2 linked regions of the Homo sapiens genome follow. The protein of the gene in region 1 purifies or fractionates together with the protein of each later gene. This does not show direct contact. Each region holds a gene or a part of one and is shown on either strand. Other genes may lie near its edges. The genes, in order: TMEM44 and COL1A2.

Region 1 (3,823 bases):
AAGGACTTGAATATAGGCTGGGTGCAGTGGTTCAGGCCTGTAGTCCCAGCACTTTGGGAGGCAGAGGCGGGCGGATCACGAGGTCAGGAGATCGAGACCACAGTGAAACCCCGTCTCTACTAAAAATACAAAAAATTAGCTGGGCGCGGTGGCGGGTGCCTGTAGTCCCAGCTACTCGGGAGGCTGAGGCAGGAGAATGGCGTGAACCCAGAAGGCGGAGCTTGCAGTGAGTCGAGATCCCGCCACTGCACTCCAGCCTGGGCGACAGAGCGAGACTCCGTCTCAAAAAAAAGGACTTGAATATAAAATGGCTCCCTCTTTTCTAAGATTTCAATTTTTTTTTTTTTTTGGAAAAAACTCTCATCTATTACCTGGGCTCTTCACTACCTTAGACTCCTCTCACAGAGAGTGGGTGTGAGGCTGTGAGTAACTTCCTCCGTGGCCAGGATGGAGGAAGTGATGGGGAGTGCATTTGGACCGACAAAAACAAAAACTGCCCCTCCGAATGTTCTCCAAATGGCTTAACCATGTGATCCGACTGAGTCCGTGAAATAGAAGATCGTGGTGTATGTGACGCAGAGGAAAGCATTTTTTATATAGGTGCCCAGACCAAAGAGCCACGTTCCCATGAGGCCCTAGTGGGAAGTTATTTTCATTTCTTTCTAGCAACTGTTAGGAAATTATATTCCAAAAGGGGGCCAAAATATTAACAGAGCCCTGTGTGTCTTGGAATTCTGAAGAGAGAAGTAGAAGCCTCTGGAGTCTCTAGCAGTTCTTCAGAGCAGTGGTTCTCAAAGTGTGGGCCCTAGACCAGGATTACCTGGGAAACTGTGAGAAATGCAGATTTGGGGGCTCCACCCAGATCTCCCGAATCTGAAACTGAGGGTGTGGTCCAGCAATCTGTATTTTATTTATTTATTTATTTATTTATTTATTTATTTATTTTTGAGACGGAGTCTCACTGTTGTCCAGGCTGGATTGCAGTGGCACGATCTCAGCTTGCTGCAACCTCCGCCTCCTGGGTTCAAGCGATTCTCCTGCCTCCGCCTCCCACGTAGCTAGGATTACAGACACACGCCACCTTGCCCAGCCAATTTTTGTATTTTTAGTAGAGACAGGGTTTCACTATGTTGACCAGGCTGGTCTCGCACTCCTAACCTCAGGTGATCGGCCTGCCTCGGCCTCCCAAAGTGCTGGGATTACAGGCGTGAGCCACCGCGCCCGGCTGCAATCTGTATTTTAGCAAAACCCACAGGGTGCTTCTGATGTGCATCAAGGTTAGAGAACCACAGCTTTGCAAAAGCACTTATTGGGCACCTATTGCAGTGGTTCGCAAACTTGGCCGCACGTTAGAATCATCTGGGGCGCGTTTAAACGATCCACTTCCCGGTTACATCTCATACCCATGAAATCAGAATGTCTGGAAGTGGGAAGTAGGCATTCCTTGTTTTGTTTTGTTTGTACGACAGGGTCTCACTCTGTCCCCTAGGCTGGAATGCAGTGCCTGGATCACAGCTTCACTCCAGATCGCTGCTCAGCTGGGGATCTTAAAAAGCAGAATAGGCCGGGTGTGGTGGCTCACGCCTGTCATCCCAGCACTTTGGGAGGCCGAGGTGGGAGGATCACTCGTGGATCACTTGAGCCCAGGACTTTGAGACCAACCTGGTCAGTACAGTGAAACTGGTCTCTACAAAAAATAAAATAAAATAAAAAAGATTCCTAGCTGATTCTACTGTGTTGCAAAATTTGGGAAACACTAAATGACTGTGGCCTCGAAGAGAAAGATAAGACACATCTTATAGGAAGCAGAAAGTGAGACGTGCCGTTAAAAAAGAGAGAGAGAAAATACCACGGGGGTCCTTTTGAATAAAATGTGACCTTGTTTTTAGAAAATGCCTCCTGACTTTGAGAATTCCCCTTTCTGTCTCCCTGCCTCTACTTGCAAGAATTTGGATTGGGTGCCTCTCACCACACTGTCACACTGCAAGTCACTGAGGACAATGACAGCAATCAGTCGCTACATGGAGCTGACCATCGAGCCTGTGCAGCAGGTGAGTGGCCATCGGTCATGGCCAGGTGTCTGAGAGGATGGGAAGCAGTCATGGAAGGCTTCCTGGAGGAGGTGATGCTTTAGCTGAGGGATGAGCAGGAGAAAACAAGAGAAGCAGGTAAAAAAGAAGGAGCTGTCCAAGGCTGCAGTGGAGGGGCAGATATGGGGGAGTGTTGGAGAGAAAAATATTTTCCCTGTCCCCTCTGATGAAACACAGAGTAACAAGAAAAAACAGCTTTAAATGTACAAAGAAAAATGTGGCTCAAGGAGGTGGCCAGTTGATGGAGGCGTATATACCATATTAGGCTAAATCAAGAAAAAGAGGTTTGGGGTTCTGGGGTGGGAGGCAAGGTGAGGGAGGACCTGTGTGGGAAATAAGGGTTTTCTTGCTATGCAGGTGAGAGTCTCTCGGGTGGAAGTAGCTCTCTTCCTGGTGCAGAAATATCTTTACAAATGGAAATTTCCTTTATGAAAGGGAAAATGTGTACTCTCTTTTCAGGCAGTTAGGGGAGGTTAATAGCTTCTGCTTCTGCTGGTTTTCAAAGACCTTTAGATCTAAGGAATCCATATGCTAAAGAGGCATATTTCGGGGTGGTATATGCTGGTACCATTTAGGAGTGAGGGGAGATGAAAGGGCTGGAGGAGGCAGGGGTCGGGTCGTTTAGACACGGAGTCTATCATCTTTTTCTCTCTTTTTTTTTTTTGAGACACTCTGTCGCCCAGGCTGGAGTACAGTGGCATGATCTCAGCTCACTGCAGCCCCCCGGGTTCAAGTGATTCTCCTACCTCAGCCTCCAGAGAAACTGAGACTACAGGAGCCTGCCACCACGCCCAGCTAATTTTTGTATTTTTACTAGAGACGGGGTTTCACCATGTTAGCCAGGCTGGTCTCGATCTCTTGACCTCGTGATCTGCTGGCCTCGGCCTCCCAAAGTGCTGGGACTACAGGTGTGAGCCACTGCGTCCGGCCGTGTCTATCATCTTGAGAGTGATGGGAGTCAGGAGGCTTGAGTACTGGAGACTCAGGGTCAGATGTGCATTTTAGAGCCATCTGGGGAAGTTGTTGCGGGTGGCCTGGGGGAGAGGAGAGTAGCAGCCGAGCAGTCAGTCAGGGCCAGTTGGAAGCCCGAGGAAAAGGAAGTGTGGCCTAAACTGAGGTTGGAGCAGACGGAGAAGCAGAGACAGAGTTGAGCGAGTTGGGAAGTGGAGCGCTGGAGGGGTGAGGAGGTGCGGGTGAGGGAGGCAGGGCTCCGGGTGACTCCCTGAGTTCTGGCCTACACGAGGGGTCCTCAGGAGGAAGAGAATTGGGAAAGAGGTGACGAGAAGTTCACCCCATGTCCCACTATTCCACCAAGACTGTCTTGTCGAGGTCACCGATGACCTCCAAGCTGCTAAGTCCACCATCATTCCATTCTGAGAGTCCACGCACTCGGCCACCAGCTGCTCCTGGCGTCTGTGGCCCCCACTCTTCTGTGTTTCCTGCCACCCTCACAGGCTCTTCTTTCCCCTCGGCCTCTGCTGGCTCCTCTGGGTAAGCTTGACTGTAGAGAGGGAGTCCAACGCCCTGTCCCAGGCAGGCTCCCTGCTCCTGGTGGGCCCTGCAGTCCCACAGTCCCCTCGCTCTGCACACCAGTTCTTGCTGACTTCCCCCATTCGTGTCTCCGTCCTTTCCCCTCCCCTCAGTTCCCATCTCGGCTGCCCAGCTGCCCATTCAGCTGTCACCATATGGCATCTCACGCTTACCTCGTCCAACACAGAATTCTGGATTTCCAT
Region 2 (3,240 bases), on another chromosome or scaffold:
TGGCCAGCTATATGCCACACTCATACATATGCATTTTCAGAATGTGAGCAGCTTTTCTGAATTTTTAATCAAACCTTTTCACCAACTTTACTGAATGCCTACTGGAATTCCATAAATTACAAAATGACAGAAAAAGAAAAATGTCAGAATTTCTACCTCCTCATTCTCTTATTCTAAAGAAGAAGCATATGCAAAAAGGATTAATTGAAACAGATAACTTTTTTAGATGACCTTGCCTCAGTCTAGTAGGTCTTATGTTCATCTAGGTAACTGATACTTCAAAGACAAGTGAATTAAGTTTTCTTTAAAAGTACCCTTTTCCTAAGCTTGGATCTGAGTCTACTCTTCCTGAGATCTTTTTTTTTCTTTTTTTTTTTTTTCATGTTTGACTCTTAGTATCTGAGTCCTTCTCCACTTAACTGGAATTTCATCCTATTTTCTGTAGTTTGAATATAATGTAGAAGGAGTGACTTCCAAGGAAATGGCTACCCAACTTGCCTTCATGCGCCTGCTGGCCAACTATGCCTCTCAGAACATCACCTACCACTGCAAGAACAGCATTGCATACATGGATGAGGAGACTGGCAACCTGAAAAAGGCTGTCATTCTACAGGGCTCTAATGATGTTGAACTTGTTGCTGAGGGCAACAGCAGGTTCACTTACACTGTTCTTGTAGATGGCTGCTCTGTAAGTAATAGTGAAATATGGGAATAGCTTTGGGAAGTGGGATGGAGGGGGTTCTAACTTAGACTGCCCCCAAGGGGGGGTCTAAAGGGGGGTTAAAAGAACAGAAGAATGAGAGAACTAACTTATTTCATAAGTAAATTCAGTTTTTGTATGTATTTTATATTTATTTATTTATACGTATTAATTTCGTACTTAAATTCAGATGATAAATTCAGAGTATTCTTATCAGATAGTGCCTTCTGAAATGCTGAAATGTATACTATGTCCATGCATTGTTTTTTCTTTAGCATGTTTTTTAAATGGTAATGTGTGCCCAGAACTTAAAATTTCTTGAGACTTCAGTGGCCTAAACTATAATTTATAGTTATGTGTATTTTATTTTACTTATTAGTATGGCCTACATTTAACTTTTAATGCTTTTTCTACAATATGCTATAAATATAAGAAAAATTAAAATTCACTAACAGCAAGACTACATACCCACCCAGGTCCCGCTCCCAAAGACACACATAGAGGGACATACACACAACAATCCTAAAAATGACTTTGTAGAGATAGGTCACTTGGAATGTGTGTTGAAATGTTGTTGGTTTTTTTGGTTTGTTTGTTTGTTTGTTTTTTGTTAGACTGATAGGGAGCCCCTCCCACTAAAGACACCCTTGATACTGTTATTTCAAGGATGAACTTATTTATCTGGGACAGACATCTTCAGAATGACACATGCCAAACAGTGGTTCTTATTAAATCAAAGGTTCAGATATTATCAGATTCAGAAATAGTGATGCTTTGTGTATCTATTTTCTTCTCTTTAAACAGAAAAAGACAAATGAATGGGGAAAGACAATCATTGAATACAAAACAAATAAGCCATCACGCCTGCCCTTCCTTGATATTGCACCTTTGGACATCGGTGGTGCTGACCAGGAATTCTTTGTGGACATTGGCCCAGTCTGTTTCAAATAAATGAACTCAATCTAAATTAAAAAAGAAAGAAATTTGAAAAAACTTTCTCTTTGCCATTTCTTCTTCTTCTTTTTTAACTGAAAGCTGAATCCTTCCATTTCTTCTGCACATCTACTTGCTTAAATTGTGGGCAAAAGAGAAAAAGAAGGATTGATCAGAGCATTGTGCAATACAGTTTCATTAACTCCTTCCCCCGCTCCCCCAAAAATTTGAATTTTTTTTTCAACACTCTTACACCTGTTATGGAAAATGTCAACCTTTGTAAGAAAACCAAAATAAAAATTGAAAAATAAAAACCATAAACATTTGCACCACTTGTGGCTTTTGAATATCTTCCACAGAGGGAAGTTTAAAACCCAAACTTCCAAAGGTTTAAACTACCTCAAAACACTTTCCCATGAGTGTGATCCACATTGTTAGGTGCTGACCTAGACAGAGATGAACTGAGGTCCTTGTTTTGTTTTGTTCATAATACAAAGGTGCTAATTAATAGTATTTCAGATACTTGAAGAATGTTGATGGTGCTAGAAGAATTTGAGAAGAAATACTCCTGTATTGAGTTGTATCGTGTGGTGTATTTTTTAAAAAATTTGATTTAGCATTCATATTTTCCATCTTATTCCCAATTAAAAGTATGCAGATTATTTGCCCAAATCTTCTTCAGATTCAGCATTTGTTCTTTGCCAGTCTCATTTTCATCTTCTTCCATGGTTCCACAGAAGCTTTGTTTCTTGGGCAAGCAGAAAAATTAAATTGTACCTATTTTGTATATGTGAGATGTTTAAATAAATTGTGAAAAAAATGAAATAAAGCATGTTTGGTTTTCCAAAAGAACATATTGAGTAAAATTCCTTGCTTCAATGCTCTTTGCAATATAAATATGCATCTCTACCAGCCATTAGACCAAGTGCCTCTGATTAGATAGAAATTATGCAAAAAGGGCAGTTTGGTGTGGTAGAAAGAGCAGAGAACGAGGACCCAGGAGAGCTGAACTCCAGTTCTGGCTCTGTTCCTTGTGGCTGAGTGACCTTGAAACTCTGAGCCTCTGCATTTCAGTTTCCATAGCTATAATATGAAAAAATTCCTTTTCAGCACTATTAAGCATTTGCCCTACTCAAAATATGTAATATTTAAGCAACATGGCATTTTTGACCTAATTTTACTATAACCAAAGGTCTATAGAAACTTGGTTTATTATATATTAAGCACTTTATAACAGTGGCTGAAAGTTGGTCTATGAGCAATTAATACTATTAACTAAAACAGTTTCAAATATTCAGTAAAAATGCCATACACTTAAATCTGAGGCAACTGAATACAATGCCTGTTAAGAGGTAATGTGTGTGCTGTCAATCAGGATAGACAGTTGTGGATAATAGTACCACGAACACCTACCTGCCAAATCAAGTTCATTTTCCTCCCCTGCACCTTTCAATAACATCTTTAATACACTTAAACATAGTAATGTGTCAAGTAAAATGTTAAGATTCATTTAGAGCTTATTTCCTGTTGCAGAACATAATTGTGATTGTAATATTTGCCTTGTGTTATAAGTCATCTCAAGATTCAATTAGTTTTAAAGGCAAAAG

What was found.
Region 2: the proteins of TMEM44 (region 1) and COL1A2 purify together in Homo sapiens (affinity purification with mass spectrometry; one large-scale study listed by BioGRID and IntAct). This does not show direct contact.

The regions. Positions count from the first base shown.
Region 1 is NC_000003.12:194,609,144-194,612,966, reverse strand, and holds part of TMEM44 (transmembrane protein 44), read left to right. Parts: intron 1-1,946; coding exon 1,947-2,051; intron 2,052-3,823.
Region 2 is NC_000007.14:94,428,743-94,431,982, forward strand, and holds the end of COL1A2 (collagen alpha-2(I) chain precursor), read left to right. Parts: intron 1-445; coding exon 446-688; intron 689-1,504; coding exon 1,505-1,651; 3' UTR 1,652-2,485; downstream 2,486-3,240. UniProt on the Homo sapiens protein: Type I collagen is a member of group I collagen (fibrillar forming collagen).